2 linked regions of the Homo sapiens genome follow. The protein of the gene in region 2 interacts with the protein of the main gene of each other region in a pairwise test. Each region holds a gene or a part of one and is shown on either strand. Other genes may lie near its edges.

What was found.
Region 1: the proteins of ATL3 (region 2) and ZFYVE27 interact in binary tests that used the Homo sapiens proteins (3 or more experiments, as listed by UniProt).

What each region holds. Positions count from the first base shown.
Region 1 is NC_000010.11:97,744,980-97,756,241, forward strand, and holds part of ZFYVE27 (protrudin), read left to right. Parts: intron 1-3,289; coding exon 3,290-3,385; intron 3,386-4,494; coding exon 4,495-4,607; intron 4,608-5,351; coding exon 5,352-5,491; intron 5,492-6,396; coding exon of another isoform or gene 6,397-6,411; coding exon 6,412-6,483; intron 6,484-7,877; coding exon 7,878-7,898; intron 7,899-8,058; coding exon 8,059-8,203; intron 8,204-9,747; coding exon of another isoform or gene 9,748-9,773; exon of another isoform or gene 9,774-11,262. UniProt on the Homo sapiens protein: Key regulator of RAB11-dependent vesicular trafficking during neurite extension through polarized membrane transport. Promotes axonal elongation and contributes to the establishment of neuronal cell polarity.
Region 2 is NC_000011.10:63,667,050-63,678,111, reverse strand, and holds the start of ATL3 (atlastin-3), read left to right. Parts: upstream 1-6,776; coding exon 6,777-6,822; intron 6,823-11,062. UniProt on the Homo sapiens protein: Atlastin-3 (ATL3) is a membrane-anchored GTPase that mediates the GTP-dependent fusion of endoplasmic reticulum (ER) membranes, maintaining the continuous ER network. It facilitates the formation of three-way junctions where ER tubules intersect.

The sequences.
Region 1 (11,262 bases), on a different chromosome or scaffold from region 2:
AGCTTTGTGTGCTCGACATCATATTAGGCAAACCACAGCTGTTACTTCATTTAACCTTTTTAACAGTTCCGGGAGGTAGTTAATATTAACATCTTCCATTTATGGGTAAAGAAAAAGGCTGACTTACTTAGCTAGAAAGTGGCCAAGCTGGGATGAGAATCTCGATCTAGCTGTTTGTTTTCACAGCTTCTGTTCTTTCTTTCTTTTTTTTTTTGAGACAGAGTTTCGCTCTCGTTGTCCAGGCTGGAGTGCAGTGACGCAATCTCGGCTCACTGCAACCTCCGCCTTCCATTGGTTTCAAGCGATTCTCCTGCCTCAGCCTCCCAAGTAGCTGGGACTACAGGCACACACCACCACGCCCAGCTAATTTTTTGTATTTTTAGTAGAGACCGGGTTTCACCATGTTTGTCACGATGGTCTCGATCTCTTGACCTTGTGATCCGCCCGCCTCGGCCTCCCAAAATGCTGGAATTACAGGCGTGAGCCACCACGCCTGGCCCTGTTCTTTCTGCTGGAGAGACAGTTTAGGGTCTTGACTAAGCATGTGCATGTATAAGCCACTGCCTGGGTTCAAATCCCAGCTCTTCCATTTACTTGCTGTGTAACATTGGGCAAGTTGCTTAGCCTCTGTGTGTCTCAAGTTTCTCATCTGTTAAATGGAATGATAACAGGGCTTACTCAGAAGGTGGTTGTGAAGATTGAACAGGTGTCTTGTACTGGGGAAGTGTTGAGTAGATATTAGTTATCATCACTACACTGTGGAGAAACTTCGTAAACATGACAGAGCTGGTACTTCTGAGGAAGCATTTTAAGACTTGAAAAATATTCATCTAACAACTTCAGTAGCAGTGGACGTTTACACCTCCCTTCCCTGGAGTGGGGTCTCTGCATTCTCTTGAAATAGAATAGGGGCAAGAAAAGTTATAAACAAACAGATGGCTGGGCCTCACCCCAGAAATTCCGAGTCAGTTATCTGGAGTGGGGCCTGGATATGTAGTTTTTTTAAAAAAGACTTTCTTACTTTGAAATAGTTTTATATATATATACACATATATATATATATATATATATATTTTTTTTTTTTTTTGAGACAGAGTCTTGTTATGTAACCCAGGCTGAAATGCAGTGGCGTGATCTCGGCTCACTGCAACCTCTGCCTCCTGTGTTCAGGCGATTCTCGTGCCTCAGCCTCCAGAGTAGCTGGGATTACAGGCATGTGCCACCATGTCCAGCTAATTTTTGTATTTTTAGTAGAGATGAGGTTTCATCATGTTGGCCAGGCTGGTCTCGAACTTCAGCCTCAGGTGATCTGCCTGCCTTGGCCTCCCAAAGTGCTGGGATTGCAGGCATGAGCCACCGCACCCAGCCTGAAATAGTTTTAAACTTAAAGAAGTACAGGAATAATACCAAGAATGCCTTTTACCCAGATAGAACAATTATTAACATTTTGCCATGTTGGCTTCGTCTATCTCTCTACATATACATATTCTTTTCTTTTTCCTAAACCATTTGAAAGTAAGTTGCAAACGTGACTTAATACTTCAGCGTGTATTTCCTAAGAACAAGGACATTCTCTTAAATATCCACAGAGCTGTAATCAAAATTAGGAAACTTAACGTTGATAACTAATGTATAATTCGTAATCGGATTTTACCAGTTGTATTAATAAAGTTCTTTTTCTTCTTTTATTAATTTTTTTCCTTTTTTCTTTTTTTTTTTTTACTTTTTGAGACGGAGTTTTGCTCTGTCATCCAGGCTGGAATGCAGTGGCATGATCATGGCTCACTGCAGCCTCAACCTCCTGGACTCAAGTGATCCTTCTGCCTCAGCCTCCTGAGTAGCTGGGACCACAGGCACATGCACCATACCCTGCTAATTAAAACAATTTTTTTGTAGAGATAGGGTCTCATTGTCTTGCCCAGGCTGGCCTTGAATTCCTGGGCTCTAGCAATCCTCCTGCTTCAGCCTCCCAAAGTGCTGGGACTACAGGTGTGAGCCAGTGTGGGTGTCCTAATAAAGTTCTTTGTATCAGTTTCCCTGATCTGGGATCCAATTCAGGATTATACATCATGTTTAATTTTTTTATGTCTCTTTAGTCTTCTTTAATCTGGAGCAGTTCCTCAGTCCTTGTTTCTTGTGACCTTGACATTTTTGAATAGTACAAGCTTATTATTTTGTAGAATCTCCCTAATTTTTGGATTGTTTGGTTCCTTGTGATCAGATTTAGAGTGTGACAAGTGATGTGTCATGTTCAGTACATCCGTATCAGGAGGCACCTGATGTCAGGAAATACTGACTTTGATCACTTGGTTAAGGCATCCATACTGTAAATTATCATTTTACTCTTCATTAGTAGTAATTTGAGGGGAGATACTTTGAGACTATGTAAATATCTTGTTCCTCATCAAACATTTATCCACTGCTTTAAAAATCCATTGATGGGTCTTGCCTTAATCAGTTTATTACTATGATGGTTGCAAAGATGATCTTCTAATTATTCTATCGACATTTTTTTAGCTGGCTTTCTACTATAAGGAAGCTCTTTCTTACTATTATCAGTATGAACTCATAGATTTATATTTTATTTGATGAGTTAGAATCTATTACTATCATTATTTATTTTGATCTCAAATTGTCCTAGATTTGGCCAGTAGGAGCTCTTTTGAGTTGGCTCTTGTTTGCATTGGTCCCTGTCATTTTTGAATGCTTCCTTTATGGTACAACAGGATGGTCAAATTCATCTTATACTTCCCTGCCCCAGCCCTGGAATCAGCTTATCTCCATGTTTCCTGGTTTCCCTTCAGAAACCCAGATCTGGGTTCAGATTGTGCTCATGGCTTCTGTGGTTCATCCATGTTTAAAAAAACAACAACCAGAACTCCCCAAGTGAGTCTGTTTCACATCCCAGGTAGAGAATATCATGCCATTTATTCTGACAGCTGCTGTGTACCCGTGAGGTGGGTCCTCTGATCCTCATTTTATAGATAAAGAAGCCACAGCCCTGGAGAATTTCAGTAGCCTGCCTGACATCAACAGTTAGAAGACCAAAGCAGGAACATTTATACTGTTTCCACCTCAGCAAGAGGCTCCAAAAAGGGGACTGAAATGTAGCTGGGGTGGCTTAGCCAGGCCTGTTTCTCCCATGCTCTCTCGACTCCTCTCTCTTTAAGCACATGGTGAGTGTGTTTAAAGAGATTGACCATCCCTAGCCAACTGTACCTGCAAGGCCCCAGGCTCCACTTCCCAGGGCTTCTGTCCTGCCCACTCACCAAAGCCCCTGTGTCTGTAGCTTGATCCAGCTGGAGGCCTTCCTGAGCCGCCTGTGCTGCACATGTGAAGCCGCCTACCGCGTGCTGCACTGGGAGAACCCCGTCGTGTCCTCACAGTGAGTGACCCCTCCTCTCCCGCCACCACCCTATAGGAATTTGCAGCTTGAGCCCGAGCAAAGCCAGCTGCCTTGAGAGGACCTCTGCCCCTCTTACCTCAGGGGAAGAGCTCGCCTCCTGGGCTCTTGTGTGTATATCTGCACATATGCTTGCGGGCTCTAATGTACTGCTTTTGTTTAGATGCTTGCTTTTATGTGTGGTAAAAATAATAATAGAAAAATAACTCACCATATAATCCACCATGCAGCCGAATCTCTTGTTTGTTTTGCCTGCTAGAATTTGTCACATGCATCTACTTTACGGATGTATAGTTTCATAGTGTATGTTCAATTTTTCTTTTGTTTTCCACTTATCATTATATTAAAGATGATTTTCTTTGTTGCTATATAGCTTTTGGAATTATTTATAATACCAGATTAATATAGATGGCAAATATAATTTGTGAAACCATTCTGTTACAGATTTAGTCAATTTCCCTTTTCATTACTAACCCCATGGTAAACATTTTTATGGATTTAGCTTTAATGTTTTAGAAAATTTTTCTTGGAGTAAATTCAAGGATGAAACTACCATATCAAACAGAATGGGTGTTTTTGAGGCTCTTTAATATGAATAATAGTGATAACTAATGTTTGTTGTGTTCACCTGGTGCCAGGCACTGCTCAACACTCCCTCTGTATTATCTCACTCTTATAGTAACTCTATTAGGTAGGCGCTACTTCAGTCCCCATCTTACACGGGAAGGGAGCTGTGCCCAGAGAACCAAGAGACTTCTCAGAATGAGAAGTGGCAGAGCTGGATTCAAATCCCAGTCTGTCTTACTCTAGACTTCAGAGTCTAGACCTTAAGGAGTGATGATGGTTGAACCAGTTTATGTGCCACCAGCTGACACCACTTTGGCCTCACCAGCATCAGGTGTTTGCACCGGTGACTTGGGATAGTTCTCAGTCTTCATCGCCATTTTCCGCTGGTTTGATGAGCGGCTCTTGTCAGTTTATTAATGTGCCCAGAGCTGTGTCTCACCTGGACCCTGCTGTGGGTGTGCTCCAAACCCGTCTCCTTCTGCTGTTACGAATTTCTGATCTTGTGGTTCTTCCCTGTCATCCAGGTTCTATGGGGCTCTTCTGGGCACAGTCTGCATGCTGTATTTGCTGCCACTCTGCTGGGTTCTCACCCTTTTAAACAGCACGCTCTTTCTGGGGAATGTGGAGTTCTTCCGAGGTAAGCCCTGAAGGGCCTGAAAGATGGGGCCCAAGCTGGCTCTGAGGGCTAGGCTAGGCTCCCCAGTTCTTCTGTCTCTACAGCTAATCATCAGTTTGCTGTGCTTCCACAAGTGCAACACCACACTGGGGTCCTCTCTCATGGGCTCTGCATCTCTGAGATGTTAGATGAAGCTGGAATCTCACCAGGGGAGGCTGCTACCATTGGGCTCCCATCTCCCTTCGCTCCCTTCCCAAGGCAGATGAATCACTGCTTATATGATATGATGGCTTCTGGAAGATGAGGGAAGGATGTTTTTCCCAAAGCTGCCACCCATCCCCTGGGGTGCAGCCACCTGGAGTTGCTACCACATCTCTGTGTGATCCCAGAATACCCCTCTGTTGTCTGGCTTCTAAAGCGCTGAGGCAGTCTGGAGAGGCACTGAGTCGCAGAGGCCCGAGTCTGTACATATGTTTGGGTGATTGCTGTATTTGTTTTCCTCCCTGTGGTAGAGTTATTTATTACAGAAGCCATGATTTATTGAGCATTTACTACATTTAATCTCTGTAGCTGTCTGGGGCAGGTGGTGGTATCTAAGTTTTGTTTAAGAGGCTTAAGTTAGGTGACTCGCTCAGAGTTAGGAGGGTGACTCTTTCCTGTAGTGAAGGGAAGAGAGGCCAGCCAGCTGCAGAAGTGGGTACCCCTAAAGTGCCACTCACGGTGTCTCATTTTTGCCTCCTACCTTGTTCTCCATTCCCTGGGTAGTTGTGTCTGAGTACAGGGCATCTCTGCAGCAGAGGATGAACCCAAAGCAGGAAGAGCATGCCTTTGAGAGTCCTCCACCACCAGATGTTGGGGGGAAGGATGGTCTGATGGACAGCACGCCTGCCCTCACACCCACGGAGGTAAGTGCCACTGTCAGGGCAGAGCCTGCTGTGGCCGCTTGTGGGCCCCCCTGTTATCAGCTTGTTTTTGGCTCCTGGGCTGGCCTCTGTTGTAGTTCCTGCTATTTCCCAGGCCTTAACTCCCCTGAAGTGTTCAATAATAATAATTGTAATAAAAACAGCTACTCCATGCTTCACTGAGTGCTTACCCTGTGTCAGATGCTGCTCCAAGTGCTTTATAGATAGATATTCACATCATGGAGTGCAGGTTCTTTCTTTCCTTTTCTTTTTTTTTTTTCCTTTTTTTTTGAGATAAGGCCTCCCTCTGTCACCCAGGCTAGAGGGCAGTGGGGCAATCACAGCTCACTACAACCTCCATCTCCTGGGCTCAGGCAGTCCTCCCACCTCAGCCTCTTGGGTAGCTGGGACTGCAGGCAGGTGCCACCACGCCCAGCTAATTTTTTTGTATTTTTAGTAAAGATGAGGTTTTGCCATGTTGCCCAGGCTGGTCTCAAACTCCTGGGCTCAAGTGATGTGCCTGCCTCGGCCTCCCAAAGTGCTGGGATTACAGGCGTGAGCCACTGCACCAGGCTGGTTATTTCTGAGAAAGAGATCATTCTCATTTGTGGAAGAGAAGGCTGAGGCACAGAGTGGCTGGTAAGTGGCAGGGCTGGGTCTAAGACCCCAGCCCTGTGGTTCTAGAGCTCGTGCCTTCAACCACTGTGCGATGTGGCCACTGTAGGGCCAGCTGTGCTCGTGTTTCCATCTCCCCCGCCCTGCCAGGCTAGAGGTTGCTCCTTCCTGTGAGTTCCTTCTTTCTTGCCATTGTGCCATTTCGTGGTGTTTTGGGTAGCCTGGATGCTGGCTTGGGGAGGTGGTCCTCTGCCTTAGGGAGCAGCGCTGCCATCCTTCTCCTTCTGTCATAGAGTCTCTCTTCCCAGGACCTCACACCGGGCAGCGTGGAGGAGGCTGAGGAGGCTGAGCCAGATGAAGAGTTTAAAGATGCGATTGAGGTGGGTGGCCCTTCCCCAGCATCCTCTACTCAGCAGGCCAGAAATTGGGTGGTCCTGGAGCTGTTTTTTGTTTTTGTTTTTTAATGTCCAAGTGAGAAGCTAAAACTTGCTGTGAGCTAGAACTCACTGGTTGAAAGAGTGCCACTGAACCCCTCCCCACTCCTGTTTCTGGTTGAGCCAGCTGTCCTGGGTGCCCAGGGCAAGAGTGGCTCTGGAAGTCTCCGGGTAATGCCCTGCTAGGGGAGCTGGACGATTTCTGGCCTTTGCTGGAGACCGTGGGCTTGGTGCCTTTGATATAGGAAAGGCAGCTTTTGAGGAGGCTACTGCCCTGGGTCTCCGCTCTTCTGCAGAGTGAGTTCCGTAAGATGTCCCTTTGCGGGGCTGGGAGGGGAGGTTGGAGAAAGTAGTTGCATGGCCAAGTGCTAGGTCAGAGGAAGTTAAACAGCTTTCTTGATTTTAGGATGGTAATTCAAATTGGTAGTTTGCAGAAGTGTTTTATTTGGCATGCAAAGTTTCAAAATAATTTTTTGAGCCAATGTTTAAATATGGAGAGATTTTTATTAGAACTGCAGGTTTCCAGTTTCTCTGGTAGTCCTGAGTCTGCAGCAGTAGGTGTAGCTAAGGAGCTGCTGTCCCCTTTACGCAGGTCACATGCTGTGGCTACAGGTGGTCCTCAACACCCCCTGCTGTATTTTGTCACTGAGGTCAAGTGGGAGTTGCCATTTGTCACATTTGCGTTTTTGTTTTTCTTAGAGTAGGATATCATTTCTCTTTATTTATTTCTCTTTGTAAAGTGGGAAATTGAGATATAAGAAAAACACCTCGTGGATTTCCACCAGGCCTGTGATTTACCCCAACTCACCTCAATCATACATCAGCCCAGGCCATGCAGGCATTTGACTTTCTGATGGCTAAAAGATTGCTCCAAAACTTTGATATATGATTGTAGACCGTGAATCTTGGTGGAGGGAATATGTAGAGCAGGGGTTTTCAAGCATTTTTGTTCATGACCCATAGTAAGGAACACATTTTGCATCTTGACCCAGGTCACACTTAGGTCTATAAAATATGTAAAACTTAAGTGAAACAAAAGTTTCCGGAAAATACGTTGTAAGGGATATTTTCTTTCCTTTTCTGTTCTATTCAAATAAAGACCTACTAAATTATTTTCACCCAGTTTGAGAAACTGTAGTACCTAGCTTTCTCCAAGGCTGTTTGATGCTGGGATCCTCTTGTGGGGGGCGTCTGTCAATGTCACCATTTGGGAAGTGCGCAGAGCTCAGAGCAGCGCTTCCATGCTTCCTTCTGCTTGGGGGCCCCTCCAGGTAGCTTCTTTCTTCTTGCTATCTTTTTCTTTCTGTTTTCTCTCCTCTTCCCCGCACCTTGGGAGGCAGGAGACCCACTTGGTGGTGCTGGTAAGTGGAAGCCTTGGTGGGTGGGCAGGGGCTGGGCTGGGGAGGGTGGCTGAACCGGCTGCTGCCACACCTCGTGGGGGCTGCCGCGCAGGATGCCTCTGCACACGGGTCCTGCAGCCTTGCAAGAGGTGGGCAGGACTGGAAGGAGCTGTTCCCACAGGAGGATGATGAGGGCGCCCCGTGCCCAGCAGAGGATGAGCTGGCCCTGCAGGACAACGGGTTCCTGAGCAAGAATGAGGTGCTGCGCAGCAAGGTGTCTCGGCTCACGGAGCGGCTCCGCAAGCGCTACCCCACCAACAACTTCGGTGCGGCCAGGGGACAGGGCTGGGCTGGTGGGGGAGTGGGGGTGGACTTCTGGGACTCTAGTGGGGAACACCCAGCCACAGGGGCAGAGTCTCAGAACTGTGGGTACTGACTTGTGACAAGAGCAGGGAGTGAAGGTGTGTCCGCGGGACCCCGGGGAGCTAGCAGATGCCCGGCAGGACTGCTGAGGGAGTGGGTGTGGGTTCCTTCTTGTCCCTCCATCCTGATTGGACATTCAGTTGTGGGAAGACAAGGAACTCAGTTTGGGAAATGCCATCCCAGGACTGTAGAGAACCATAATCCTGACAGAACTTCAGAAGGCAGTGTAGCATGATGGTGAGGAACAGAGTAGAGTCTCACTGCCTGCTGCAAATCCCAGCTCAGCCAGGTGTCCTTGAGCAAATTATTTCACACCCCGTGCCTCAGTTTCCCCTTCTGTAAAAGGGGGATCATCATTCTTACCTCATAGGGTTGTTACAGGTCTCATGTCAAATGAGACAGTAGTACTTACGAAGGGCTAGCACAGTGCTGGTTGGTTCATAGTAAGTAGTGGGTGCGGTTAATGTGGGAGGCCCTGACCCACGCTGTGGGTTCCTAGGATCCTGTCTTGGTCTTTCTTATCCAGCTGGAAGCAAGTTGAAGCAAACATTGTTTCTCTGGACGTGATAGAGCCCTGAGTTCACCTCTCCCCAGCCAGTCCTTATTTTACTGAGGGTCGGGGGAGAGCGGTCAAGGAAGGCAGCTTTGGAGAAGGGTGGACTTGACAGCACAGCTTAGAGACCTGGCTCAGATCAGCAGCGCTGAGAGCTGAGCCACATACAATTATGGTGGAAACCTAGAGTAGCTAGGTTGACCTGGGAGCTGCTGTGCTCCTGAGGAAGGGCCCTCCTGCCTGCTGTCAGATGGGAGCAGGGTAAGGGGGCAGTACTGTGTGTTCTGGTGTTGAGTGAGTTCTAGGGTCTGTGCCCTGGAAGAAGACAATGGAGTTTATCTTGAGGAATTTGACTCAGGGCCCCCAGGGTCCTGCCTTCCTACCCCTGCAGCAGCCAGGGCAGTTGTTTTCTCAGGATTAGATGTCCTGGACAGGCTCTTTCTTTCTGCTGTGTGAATGTCCCCCAGTTATTCAAGATCCCTTTTTTTTTTTTTTTTTGAGACAAGGTCTCACTGTGTCTCCCAGGCTGGAGTGCAGTGGCATGATCACAGCTCACTGCATCCTCGACTTCCTGGGCTCAAGTGATCCTCACAGCTCAGCCTCCCGAGTAGCTGGGACTACAGGCATGTAGCACCATGCCTGGCTAATTTTTGAATTTTTTTTGTAGAGACAGGGTCTTACTTTGTTCCTCAGGCTGGTCTTGAACTCTTGGGTTTAAGTGATTCTTGTACCTTGGTCTTCCAAAGTGTTAGGATTACAAGTGTGAGCCACCACGCCCGGCCCCTTTGTTTTATTTATGCTGCCTGCTGACTTCTGCAGGGCATTCTGTATGTTCAGTGATCTGTTTACCCTCCATACTTGCACATGTGTGATCTCATTTCATCCTTACCGTAGGTGTGACAGGAGCAGGCAGTTCTTAAGGGTTCAGAGCAGCCAGATTCCAGCAGTGCCCGGTAACACTACACACAAGAAGTATTACTCTGGTCCAGCAAATAATTTGTCTATTTCTACAACTTCTAAGTAAAGGTACTTAGCTGTTCCCATTTTACAGATGAATAACCTGAGGTAAAAAGAGTGCTTTGCCCAGAGACTTTGGCCTGGAAATGGTGGAGCTGTGACTCAAATTCAGGTTGTCTGATTCGGCTCTTGTCTTCTTTCTACCTCTTCATCCTCCCTCTCTGTTTTCCCTTTGCCCTTGCGTGTGAAGTCCCTTGTTTTATGCCTGTCCCGCTTTTGTATTTGATTTTTGGTTTGGATAATCTCTACCAGCATGGGCAGAGGCCTTTTCAGCCTCCCTCAAGGATGGCAAGGGCAGAAAGTGCTTCTTTTCCTAAACTCCTCTTAGTTCCTCATCCTTCAAGACCACTTGCTACTTTCCCTTTTCTGAGATGTTCCCAAGCTCTTTGCCATGAGGGCAGGTGTAGCAGCTCTGCTCCTGCGGCCTCTGCTCCTGAACCTGGGTCCTGAGAGCAGGGCGAGGGGAGCTGCTTTGGGGGCTTTCTCCATTTCAGCGACTATAACGAAATACACTAAGCTGGGGGGCTTTTAAATAATGGAAATCTCTCATCACAGTTCTGGAGGCTGGAAGTCCAAGATCAGGGTGTCAGCAGGATCAGGTTCTGGTGAGGTCCATTTCCGTCGTCATAGACAGCACCTTCTCACTGTGTCCTCATGAGAAGGTGGGAGGGGCACGGCAGTTCTCTGGGGCCTCTTTTATAAGGGCACTAATCCCATTCACGAGGGCTCCACCCTCATGACCCGGTCACCTCCCAGGGGCCCTGCTTTGGGTGTTAGGATTCCACATGTGAATGTTAGGGGACTGTGGTGGGGGCTATTCTATTTACCCCTGCCAGTGGATGAGGGGGTGCATGGGGAGAATGAGGGCAGACTGCAAAGGAGCTTCTCTGTGGCCTCCGTATGGGAGAGGTCTTGGTGGGGAGGGCCCCCCTTTGTCCTGGAGGCTCCATGACTGTTGCCCTGGCAGGCCCCACTGGGCCTTAGTGCCCCTGCTGTCATGGCCTCGGTGGCATCGTCACGTGGTGAGTGAGGATGGGTGAGTCCAGGCTGTTGCTGAGAAGGGGCAGAAAGAGTTGGTAGGTGTTGGAAGGGAACGTCACCTGGCTGAGCTGCTCTCAGCTCCCAGAGCCCTCCCTGGCTCCGGTCTGTGAGTGGGTTCACAGCTGTCTCCCCAGCCCACTTGGCTGCCCTGGGGTGCTTGGCCCTGACATTCCATTCAGTTTAGAGGAGACCTTGGGCTCAGGTCAGTGTCAGTCTTTGAGTAGCTCCTTTTGCCTGTCCCATTCCCCTTGTGTCCCTTGCTAAGGAGAGGCTGGGGCAGGCTGCCTTCCCCAAATTCTTGGTGTAGGGACAGAATCTTGGAGCAGCCAGTTTCCTGGTTTGGCACCAGCA
Region 2 (11,062 bases):
TTTTGTGAAGATGCTCAAAGTTAGATAGGTGTTTGGAATTGTAAGGAAGTCATTAAAAGCAGAAAAGGATGGTATGAAGCAAATACAGGGGTTGCTTTTGTGAATGTATACAAAAAAAGTACTCTTCTGGGCAGATGAATCACAAAAAAGAACCTCTTTCTCCCAGCCCCACCCATGATACAGTTCCATGCTGATTTGGCTAGCAGAACCTCACCTAGATTTGATCCCCTCTTGCCCCTTGTCTCCACAAGCTGCCTTGGTGTAACACTCAGACTGTACAGCCATATGTGGTGGCTAAAGGCTCAGACGTGAGCGTGTATAAGGTGTCTTGGGTGTTGGTTAGACCAAATTGGCTGGAGCTGAAGGCTTGAATTAGGACAGGAGGGAAGATATAGGGATAACATCTAAAATGAGGAAGATATGTTGGGGCCAGTTTTTGGAGAAGCAGTAGTATTGAACCAAAGAACTGAGGCTTTGTCTTAAGAATAATGGGGATTGAGTGGAAGTTTTTGGTGGGAAATGGCTCAGCTGGGATTTTTTTTTTCCTTTTTTTTGTCCAAGATGGGATTTTTTTTTTTTTTGAGATGGAGTCTCACTCTGTCACCCAGGCTGGAGTGCAGTGGCATGATCTCAGCTGACTGCACCCTCCACCTCCTGGGTTCAAGTGATTCTTCTGCCTCAGCTTCCCGAGTAGCTGGGACTACAGGCCCATGCCACCATGCCTGGCTAATTTTTATATTTTTAGTAGAGACGAGGTTTCACCATGTTGGCTAGGCTGGTCTTGTACTCCTGACCTCGTGATCTGCCTGCCTCAGCCTCCCAAAGTCCTGGGATTACAGGCGTGAGCCACCGCGCCCGGCCCAAGATGGAATTTTTAAAGTGCTCCCTGGCTGTCATGGTGGCTCACCTCTGTAATCCCTACACTTTGAGAGGCCAAGGCAGGAGGATGGCTTGGGCCCAAGAGTTCAAGACCAGCCTGGACAATATAGCGAGACCTCATCTTGAAAAATAAAATAACTCCAGGCGCGGTGGCTCACGCCTGTAATCCCAGCACTTTGGGAGGCCGAGGTGGGTGGATCACGAGGTCAGGAGATCGAGACCATCCTGGCTAACACAGTGAAACCCCGTCTCTACTAAAAATACAAAAAATTAGCCGGGCTTACTGGCGGGTACCTGTAGTCCCAGCTACTCAGGAGGCTGAGGCAGCAGAATGGTGTGAACCCGGGAGGTGGAGCCTGCAGTGAGCCGAGATCGCGCCACTGCGCTCCAGCCTGGGCAACAGAGCGAGACTCCATCTCAAAAAAAAAAAAAGAAAGAAAAATAAAGAGCACACTGGAGTATGGCCATTTCTCTGAAGTTCCCTTGAACACCTGAGGCGCTGTGCTAGGTCTCTTATTCTTTGGCCCTGTCTTTATAGGACTGGTATTTTTGTGTGCATGTGTGAGTACGTAGTAAGGACTGGTATTTTTTTTTTTTGAGACGGAGTTTTGCTCTTGTTGTCCAGGCTGGAGTGCAATGGTGCGATCTTGGCTCACCGCAACCTCTGCCTCCCGGATTCAAGCGATTCTCCTGCCTCAGCCTCTGGAGTAGCTGGGACTACAGGCATGTGCCACCACACCCGGCTAATTTTGTATTTTTAGTAGAGACAGGGTTTCTCCATGTTGGTCAGGCTGGTCTCGAACTCCTGACCTCAGGTGATCCACCCGCCTCGGCCTCCCAAAGTGCTGAGATTACAGGCATGAGCCACCACTCCTGGCCAGGACTGGTATCTTATACAGATAATTTCTTTATTTTCGAGACGGAGTTTTGCTCTTGTCGCCCACACTGGAGGGCAATGGCATGATCTCAGCTCACTGCAACCTCCGCCTCCTTAGTTCAAGCAATTCTCCTGCATCAGCCTCCCCACTGGCTAGGATTACAGGTGCACGCTACCAAGCCCAGCTAATTTTTATATTTTTACTAGAGATGGGGTTTCACCATGTTGGCCAGGCTGTTCTTGAACTCCTGACCTCTGGTGATTGGCCCACCTCAGCCTCCCAAAGTGCTGGGATTACAGGCTTGAGCCACTGTGCTCGGCCTATACAGATAATTTCCCAGTTTAACTTCTAAGCCATCTAATTACCCTATATTTTCTTGACTTTTAGAAAAAATTATATATTTTATTTTATTTTTAAATTTTTAAAAATTATATATTTTAAATTAAGACATTTGAAGGGCGGGCGCAGTGGCTCACACCTGTAATCCCAGCACTTTGGGAGGCCGAGGTAGCCAGACTGCCTGAGGTCAGGAGTTGGAGAACAGCCTGCCTAACATCGTGAAACCCTGTCTCTACTAAAAATACAAAAAAATTAGCCGAGCCTGGTGGCACATGCCTGTTGTCCCAGCTACTCAGAAGGCTGAGGCAGGAGACTCGCTTCAATCTGGGAAGCAAAAGTTGCAGTGAGCCAAGATTGCGCCACTGCACTCCAGCCTGGGCGACAGAGTGAAACTCTATCTCAAAAAAAAATTTGATATGTAGTCACAGATCATTCATATATACGTACACAAATATTCAGGAATATATATATTGTAAAGTTTTATCACTAACTCCCTCCACTCCTCTACACACATATAGGTAGCTACTATTAGGATTTTCTCTTTTTTTTTTTTTTGAAATGGAGTCTTGCTGTGTCGCCCAGGCTGGAGTGCAATGCTGCGATCTCAGCTCACTGCAAGCTCTGCCTCCTGGGTTCACGCCATTCTCCTGCCTCAGCCTCCCAAGTAGCTGGGACTACAGGCACCCGCCACCACGCCCAGCTAATTTTTTGTATTTTTAGTAGAGACGGGGTTTCACCGTGTTAGCCAGGATGGTCTCGATCTCCTGACCTCGTGATCTGCCTGCCTCGGCCTCCCAAAATGCTGGGATTACAGGCGTGAGCCACCGAGCCTGGCCACTATTAGGATATTCCTGTGGCAAACATAAGCAAAGGTGAATATAGCAAATCTGTATCCTCATCCCCACTGCCTTTTTTTTTTTTTTTTTAGTGGAGTCGCTCTGTCACCCAGGCTGGAATGCAGTGGTGGCATGATCTTGGCTCACTGCAACCTCTGCCTCCTGGGTTCAAGCCATACTCCTGCCTCGGCCTCCCAGGTTGCTGGGATTACAAGCATACACCACCATGCCTGGCTAATTTTTGTATTTTTAGTAGAGACAGTGTTTCACTGTGTTGGCCAGGCTGGTCTTGAACTTGTGACCTTAAGTGATCCATATGCTTCAGACTCCCAAAGTGCTGGGATTACAGGCATGAGCCACTGTGCGCTGTCCCCCGCCCCCACTTTCTTTCTTTCTTTCTTTCTTTTTTTGGAGGTAGGGTTTGCTCTGTTGCTCAGGCTGTAATGCAGTGCTACAATTATGGCTCACTGCATCCTCTACCTCCTAGGCTCAAGCAATCCTCCCACCTCAGCCTCCCAAGTAGCTGGGACCACAGGTACCCCACCATACCTGGCTAATTTATTTGTTTATTTTTGGTAGACATGGGATCTCCCTATGTTGCCCAGACCGTTTTGTTTGTTTGTTTGTTTGTGACAGAATTTTGCTCTTATTGCCCAGGCTGGATGCAATGGCAGGATCTCAGCTCGCTGCAACCACTGCCTCCCGGGTTCAAGAGATTCTCCTGCCTCAGCCTCTGGAGTAGCTGGGATTACAGGTGCCTGCCACCACTCTTGGCTAAGTTTTTGTATTTTTAGTACAGACGGGATTTCACCATGTTGGCCAGGCTGGTCTCCAACTCCTGACCTCAGGTGATCCACCTGCCTCGGCCTCCCAAAGTGTAGGGATTACAGGTGTGAGCCACTGCCCCCAGCCCCCAGACTGGTCTTGAACTCCTGGGCTCAAGAGATCCTCCCAGTTAGACCGCTGTGCTGTTGGCTGAAATACCAATAATGAAGTAGCTGACAAGGTCTTAAGCTTTCAGTATGTTACCATGTTGAGGACCTAATATTCAACTTTATAAGACCCTATCAAGTGGGGTTGGCTATTTTCTTTTTACAAATGAAGATGCCAAATCATTACCCCATTTTACACACATGCAAAATAAGGTATGGAAATTTAAATGATGCCCAGGGATGTAGTATTCCAACTTGTCCCTTCCAAGTTGCTTAAATAATGATCCTGCACATAGAGGGCAGAAAGCTGAACTGTGTCCCAGTACAGTCACAGTGAATGATATTTCCTCAGCTGTCTATCCCACAGGACTGCGAGTCTCTGGAGGATAGGAATGTGTCTTATGCAGCATTATGGCCTATCACGGTACCTGGCATATAACAAATGACCTATTTTTGGAAAGCTTTGGAACCTGAGTCATGGTGGATGCCATTGCAGAAAACAATTTTGCTATTTTTGTGTTTCATAAACCACTTGAGTATCTTGAATATTTATGACTTTATTTTGCTTTTCCAGAATGAATATGCTGATTACTAATTTTGATCACTAACCACGCAGTCATCATTTCCAAACACACAGCTCACTTAGCCTAGAACAACCGTGTGGGTCTTTAAATCATTTTGCAGATGATGAAATGGATTCAGAGAGGTTAAGTAGCTCGCCCAAGGTTGCATAGCTAGTGAACATCAGAGCCAGGTAAGTCTGACCCCAAAGCCAGTAGTCTGTCCACTCAAATATGTCTACATGTCACCTACTTCTGGAAAACCTCAAGGGAAGCTCAACCTCTGATCATAGCACATAACTCAATTCAGAGTGAGATAGCTGAAGGCAGGCTGTAACCAGTATTGTCAATATTTGGCACTTTCAATGTCCAGTGTTTTGATGACCCTGGATATTTGAGAAGGAAATAACACAAAACATGTTTCTCATTTACAGGGGTTGCTTTCTAAGTTGTGACTAATCCTTAAGTCCACCTATAATTTGTACTGTTTTGTTCCAAATGCCAAAAGCTTCTACAAGGGCTACAATGCTGATGTGCTAACATTGACCTTGATACCTTGATGATGTAATATTGAGACATATATCAGTATTTGCTGGTCACTTCCTGAGAAGTTGGATTTCAGTGAATCTCTGGGGAGCCCTTAAAATAAACTAGGGTATTTTGTTCAATAGTAAAAGTTAGGTATTTAATATTAAAGGAACCAGAAAGTGAGTGAGCAGTGTTAGATGTAACATATATCTTCTTCATCCATTAATTCAATAGATATTTGAGTCTCTATTATCTGCCAGCAGTATTTAGGGACTGGGGATATACAAGTAAACAAAACAGACAAAAATTCCTATCTGTTTGGAACTTACATTCAGTGGGAAGAGACAAACACAATGAAAGGTAAAACATAAGTCAGATAGTAGCAGGAAGTCTTTTTTTTTTTTTTTTTTTTTGAGATGGAGTCTTGCTCTTTCTCCCAGGCTGGAGTGCAGTGGTGCCATCTCCACTCAATGCAACCTCTCCTGCCTCAGCCTCCCGAGTAGCTGGGATTACAGGCGCCTGCCACCACGCCTGGTTAATTTTTTGTATTTTTAGAAGAGATGGGGTTTCACCATGTTAGCCTGGCTGGTCTTGAACTCCCGACCTCAGGTGATCCAACCACCTCAGCCTCCCAAAGTGCTGGGATTACAGGCGTGAGCCACCGCGCCTGGCCAAGTGGTATGAAGTCTTTTGGAGAAAAGTAATGCAGGGAAAAGGAGCAGAGAATGCTGGGATGTGCGTGCAAGTTTTTTTTTTTTTTTTTTGATGGAGTTTTGCTCCTGTTGCCTACGCTGGTGTGCAATGGTGCGATCTCGGCTCACTGCAACCTCCGCCTCCTGGGTTCAAGCGATTCTCCTGTTCAGCCTCTGGACTAGCTGGGATTACAAGCGTGCGCCACTACGCCTGGCTAATTTCGTATTTTTAGTAGAGACGGGGATTCTCCATGTTGGTCAGGCTGGTCTCGAACGCCCACGACCTCAGGTGATCCACCCGCCTCGGCCTCCCAAAGTGCTGGGATTACAGGCGTGAGGCACGGCGCCCGGCCTGGACTTCTTACATTAGCTATCAGAGCGGTGATGGTGCGCATCAGCCATGGCCAGGGACAGGAATATAGGGAGATGATAATAAAGGTGGTAATGAAGTCACGGCCACCTGCCCTTATGAAGTCAAAATCATTAAAGACCCAGTGACGTTCATGCCATCCAGGGTTGAGGCCTCTCTTCTGCCCACCTGTGGTCCCAGGCCTAGTTAAACACCAAAGCTGTCTCTCACACTGGTGGTTCCAGGATAAAGCCTCGGCCTGGGGCCTGGTCTGCACGTTAGGCGCCGGCCGCAGCTCGCAGGAGGACCCGAGCCAGCCCGCCCCTTCCCGCACAGCCTGCTGGGAGTTGTAGTTCAGTCGTCGGAGAACCACGCCAAGCCCCGCCCCAGATGAGTGCGCAGTATGAGGACCGCTGGCCGGGACCCAGTGAGCGCGGGACTACAATTCCCAAAGGACGGTAGCACTCAGCGCCCCGCCAACAGGTACCCGGCGGCTCGCTTCGCGCACACGCGGCAGGCGGTGGCGGGATTCTGCCGCGTGCGCTTTCCCGCCCCGCCTCGCCTAGCCTCGTCCTGCGCTCGCCACGCCTCGGGCTGTCCGTTGGGCCACGCAGACCGCGCTGCGCTCGCTCCGTCGCGGCTCCGCGTGCCCCACCTTCTGGCTAGTTTTTTCTAGAGCCCAGGCTCCGCCCGTTTCCCGCTTCCAGGGCCCGGTTCGTTCCCGCCCGCACCCGTCCCTCTCCTCTGCACCCCTGCTGCTTCTGCTTTGAAGGCGGAGGCTCCATGTTGTCCCCTCAGCGAGTGGCAGCAGCTGCCTCAAGAGGAGCAGGTGAGGCGCCGATTTTCCCTGGATCGCCCCGCGGCCACCCCCGCCGCCTTCCCTGCTGTAGTTCTGAAAAGAACCCCCGCCCGCGCCGCCGCCCTTCCTCGTCCCGGGGCTGGGACCGCGCGTCCCTCGCCGGGGTCACTCGGTTTCCGAATTTGTGGTGGGGGGGCCCCTCTTCGGGCCCAGCTGGTCCAGCGAGGGCGGCACCTTCCTTACTTTTCGGCCGGGGGCGGCCGCCGTCAGGGCTCGGGCCCTGGTGCCGCCGGGGGCTCCTCCAGCTCCTCCCCTGGGCTGCAGCTGCCCCTGGGCGGCCCAAGGGCCGGTGGTCCCCGTGGGCGGCGTCCGGAGCTTCGGCCCCGCCGAGCCCCGCCCTGGGCAGAGCCGGGCGCCCCAGGGCGCTGCCCCTCCGTGCCCGGGCACTCAGCGCCCTCTCTGGTCGGAGAATCGGGGCCTGGATGGAGCGGGAAGGTGAATGCTGGTTTATTTGGCCTTTCTGGAAGTGCTGGAAGGCTGCGAAGTGTCTTGGAAGCTTTATTTTTATCCTAACGACCTTGAGGCACTGACCACAAGTATTAGGAAAGTTGGTTTTCAACCCATACTTAACGCTGTAAAGAATTGGTCTAAATTGGTTTTTCGTAAGTTAGTGCTTTTGGCACAGTACGTTGTTCTTTTGCTTTCCCGAAGACATGAAACATAGTGAAAGTATTAAAAACCAAATAAGGAGTCACCGTGTATTCACGGATCTGATTTAGTCTGTCATTTTACTTGGCTTTATTCTAGTGTAATGTGTGTGCTGTTGAAATGACCGTTTCACTTGCGAAATCGAAGAGCAAAAAGGAAAAGAACAGTGAAGAATTTTTAAATGAGTCTCAGTTCTCAAATTCAAATACGAAGCAATGGAACGTTTTGTCAGTCTTAGAATAACGGACCAAAAATGTACGATTTCACATATTGGCTTACTTTTGGAGATTTAAGAAGCATAACCTACGGAGTACTAATCCCTGTCAAGAATTTAGCATTGCAACATAGGTACTGAAATTCAAATTAGTGCTTTTTTTTTTCCATTCCCACAGAGATTAGCTTGTACTCCAGAAATTCCTGTTGCCGCTCTAACACCTGTAAACACTTGGCTGAGAAGGATCTCAGTATTGCAGTAGTCCAGCACATTGTTTTATTATTATTTTTTGAGACGGAGTTTTGCTCTGGTCACCCAGGCTGGAGTGCAATGGCGCGATCTCGGCTGATTGCAACCTCCGCTTCCTGGGTTCAAGCAATTCTTCTGCCTCATCCTCCCGGGTAGCTGGGATTACAGGCGCTCTCCACCATGCGCGGCTATTTTTTTTTGAGACGGAGTTTCGTTTTTGCTACCTAAACTGGAGTACAGTGGCGCAGTCTCGGCTCACTGCACCCTCCGCCTCCTGGGTTCAAATGATTCTCCTGCGTCAGCCTCCCGAGTAGCTGGGATTATAGACATCCGCCACCAGGCCCAGCTAATTTTTTGTATTTTTAGTAGAAACGGGGTTTCACCACGTTGGCCAGGCTGGTCTCGAACTCCTGACCTCAGGTGAACCACCCTCCTCTCCTCGGCCTCCCAAGTACTGGGATTACAGGCGTGAGCCATCGTGCCCGGCCCATTATTGTATTAGCTACAGTTTACTACCTCATTGTAGTAGAATTCATGAAATAGAAGTAACGGGATAGATGTGGTGTTGTGTACTAGCTTAATTTTCTTTTTCTTTTCTTTTTTTTTCTTCTGGTGAGAAGGAGTCTTGCTCTCTCGCCCAGGGTGGAGTGCAATGGCGCGATCTCTGCTCACTGCAACCTCCGCCTCCCAGGTTCAAGCGATTCTCCTGCCGCAGCCTCCCAGGTAGCTGGGATTACAGGCGCCCTCCACCGCGCCTGGGTAATTTTTGTATTTTTAGTAGAGACGGGGTTTCACCATGTTTGCCAGGCTGATCTTGAACTCCTGACCTCAGGTGATCCTCCTAGCTCGGCCTCCCAAAGTGCTGGGATTGCAGGTGTGAGCCACGGCGCCTGGCCCAGTTGCGTGGTATTTCGATTGTCAGAACACCTTAGATATATTTCACAGCTGAAGTATGTTAACAGATTAGAAGACAGGCTTTCCTGGTATAGTAGGCGCTAATTAGGAAATCCTTACTTGGCCGGGAGCTGTGGTTTACTCCTGTAATCCCAGCATTTTGGGAGGCTGAGGCAGGTGGATCACCTGAGGTCAGGAGTTCAAGACCAGCCTGGCCAACATGGTGAGACGCCCCCCCCCACCCAAAAAAAAATTAAAAAAAAGTTAGCCAACGTGGTGTTGCAGGCCTGTAGTTCTGGCTACTCAGGAGGCTGAGGTGAGAGGATGGAGTGAGCCCAGGAAGTTGGCTGCAGTGAGCCTTTTTTTTTTTCTTTTTTCTGCAGTGAGCCTTGTTCTTGCCACTGCACTCCAGCCTAGGCAACAGAGTGAGACCTTGTCTCAAAAAAAAAAAAAAAAAAAAAAAAGGAACACAGCTAATTCAAACCTTTGGTGGCATTCTTATTCTTAGGAAAGAGATACAAAAGTGTTACTGAGCTCATTCCATTAAAAAGGTTTTTTTCCTCCACTTGTGATATAGCCTGGCATCATTTTCAGATTCAGCCCTCTCCTTGGATTTTCTGAATCTTCAGTACCATTTAGTCATAGATAATTTTTGTAAACCTATGAAGCATTACACAATCCTTAGTCAACAACAAAAAATATGGTTTTGTTCAGCCTTCTGTGCTATGGCGAAAAGATTTTCTACAACAGACAAATATAAAATTTGCCCAGTATTCTGGTTAATTAGATTTAAATAGTATTTTCACTGAAACAGCCTTAAGCGTATTGCAGTGTATCTACTGGCACAATCACTGCCTTAAGACAAAACGGTATATAAAAGCACCCACCCCTCCACCACCAGAAGGAACCACACCCAGCAGTTCTAGAGTTGGCTAAGGTCTTAGTATACTTACTCTTGCCTGTGATGATGTTTTCTCTGGCTTTGTCAGTTAGAAACCTTAAAGACTGCCAGCAAGAACAAGGCATGAAAATGGTATGCCTCTGTTTTGGGTGTGTTGCTCTTGCCCTTTGGAGAATATGATATTTTATAAGGAGACTGGAAAACTCAGGTCATAACTTTACCCTGAGTCATACATGAATCTACTCAGCAAAGTGTTTCTGTGACTGGTTGGTTACTTTGTATTCAGAACTCTTTGAATGGTAAGGATAAACACCAAGGCTGACTCTACTCAGTGGTTCTTAACCTATGGTAATATTGCCTCTTCCTGCCCCTGGAGCATTTAGCAATGACTGGAGACGTTTTTTGGGTGTTAGAACCTGTTGTGGGGAGTGTTACTGGTATCTAGTGGGTAGAGGCCAGGGATGCTGCTCAATAGCCTGTAGTGCGTAGGATAGCCCCCCACAACAGTTGTGCAGCTCCAATGTCAATATGTCAGTAGTGCTGAGGTTGAGAAACCCTAGTCTACACTGTCATTTTTTTTTTTTTTTTTTGATACAGAGTCTCGCTCTGTCACCCAGGCTGGAGTGCAATGGCGCGATCTCAGCTCACTGCAGCCTCCATCTCCCAAGTTCAAGTGATTCTCCTGCTTCAGCCTCCCGAGTAGCTGGGACTGCAGTCATGCACCACCACGCCTGGCCAATTTTTTTGAATTTTCAGTAGAGTCAGGGTTCCACTATATCGGTCAGGCTGGTCTCAAACTCTTGGCTGCAAATGATCCATCCGCCTTGGCCTCCCAAAGTGGTGGGATTACAGGCGTGAGCCATTGCACCCGGCCCACTTCTCAGGAATCCTAAACTCTTGGGAGGCTGAGGTGGGAGAATCACTTGAACCTGGGAGGTGGAGGTTGCAGTGAGCAGGAATGACGCCACTGCTCACCAGCCTGGGCGACAGAGCAAGAATCTGTCTCAAAAAAAAAAAAATGCTTTCTAATTATACAAAGATTTTCAACATTTTCTACATACTTGAACTGATGAGTGATAGAATATTATCATGAGCTATTTACAGCAATGAAGTAGTCCCCATTATCTGAGGGGCATATATTGTAAGGCCCCCAGTGGATGCCTGAAACTGCTGATAGCACTGAGCCCTGTATACACTACGTTGATCAGTGAGAAGGCTACTAAATAACTAATGGGCATGGTAGCATATACAGTGTGGATACTCTGGAAAAGGGAATGATTCATGTCCCAGGCAGGATAGCACAA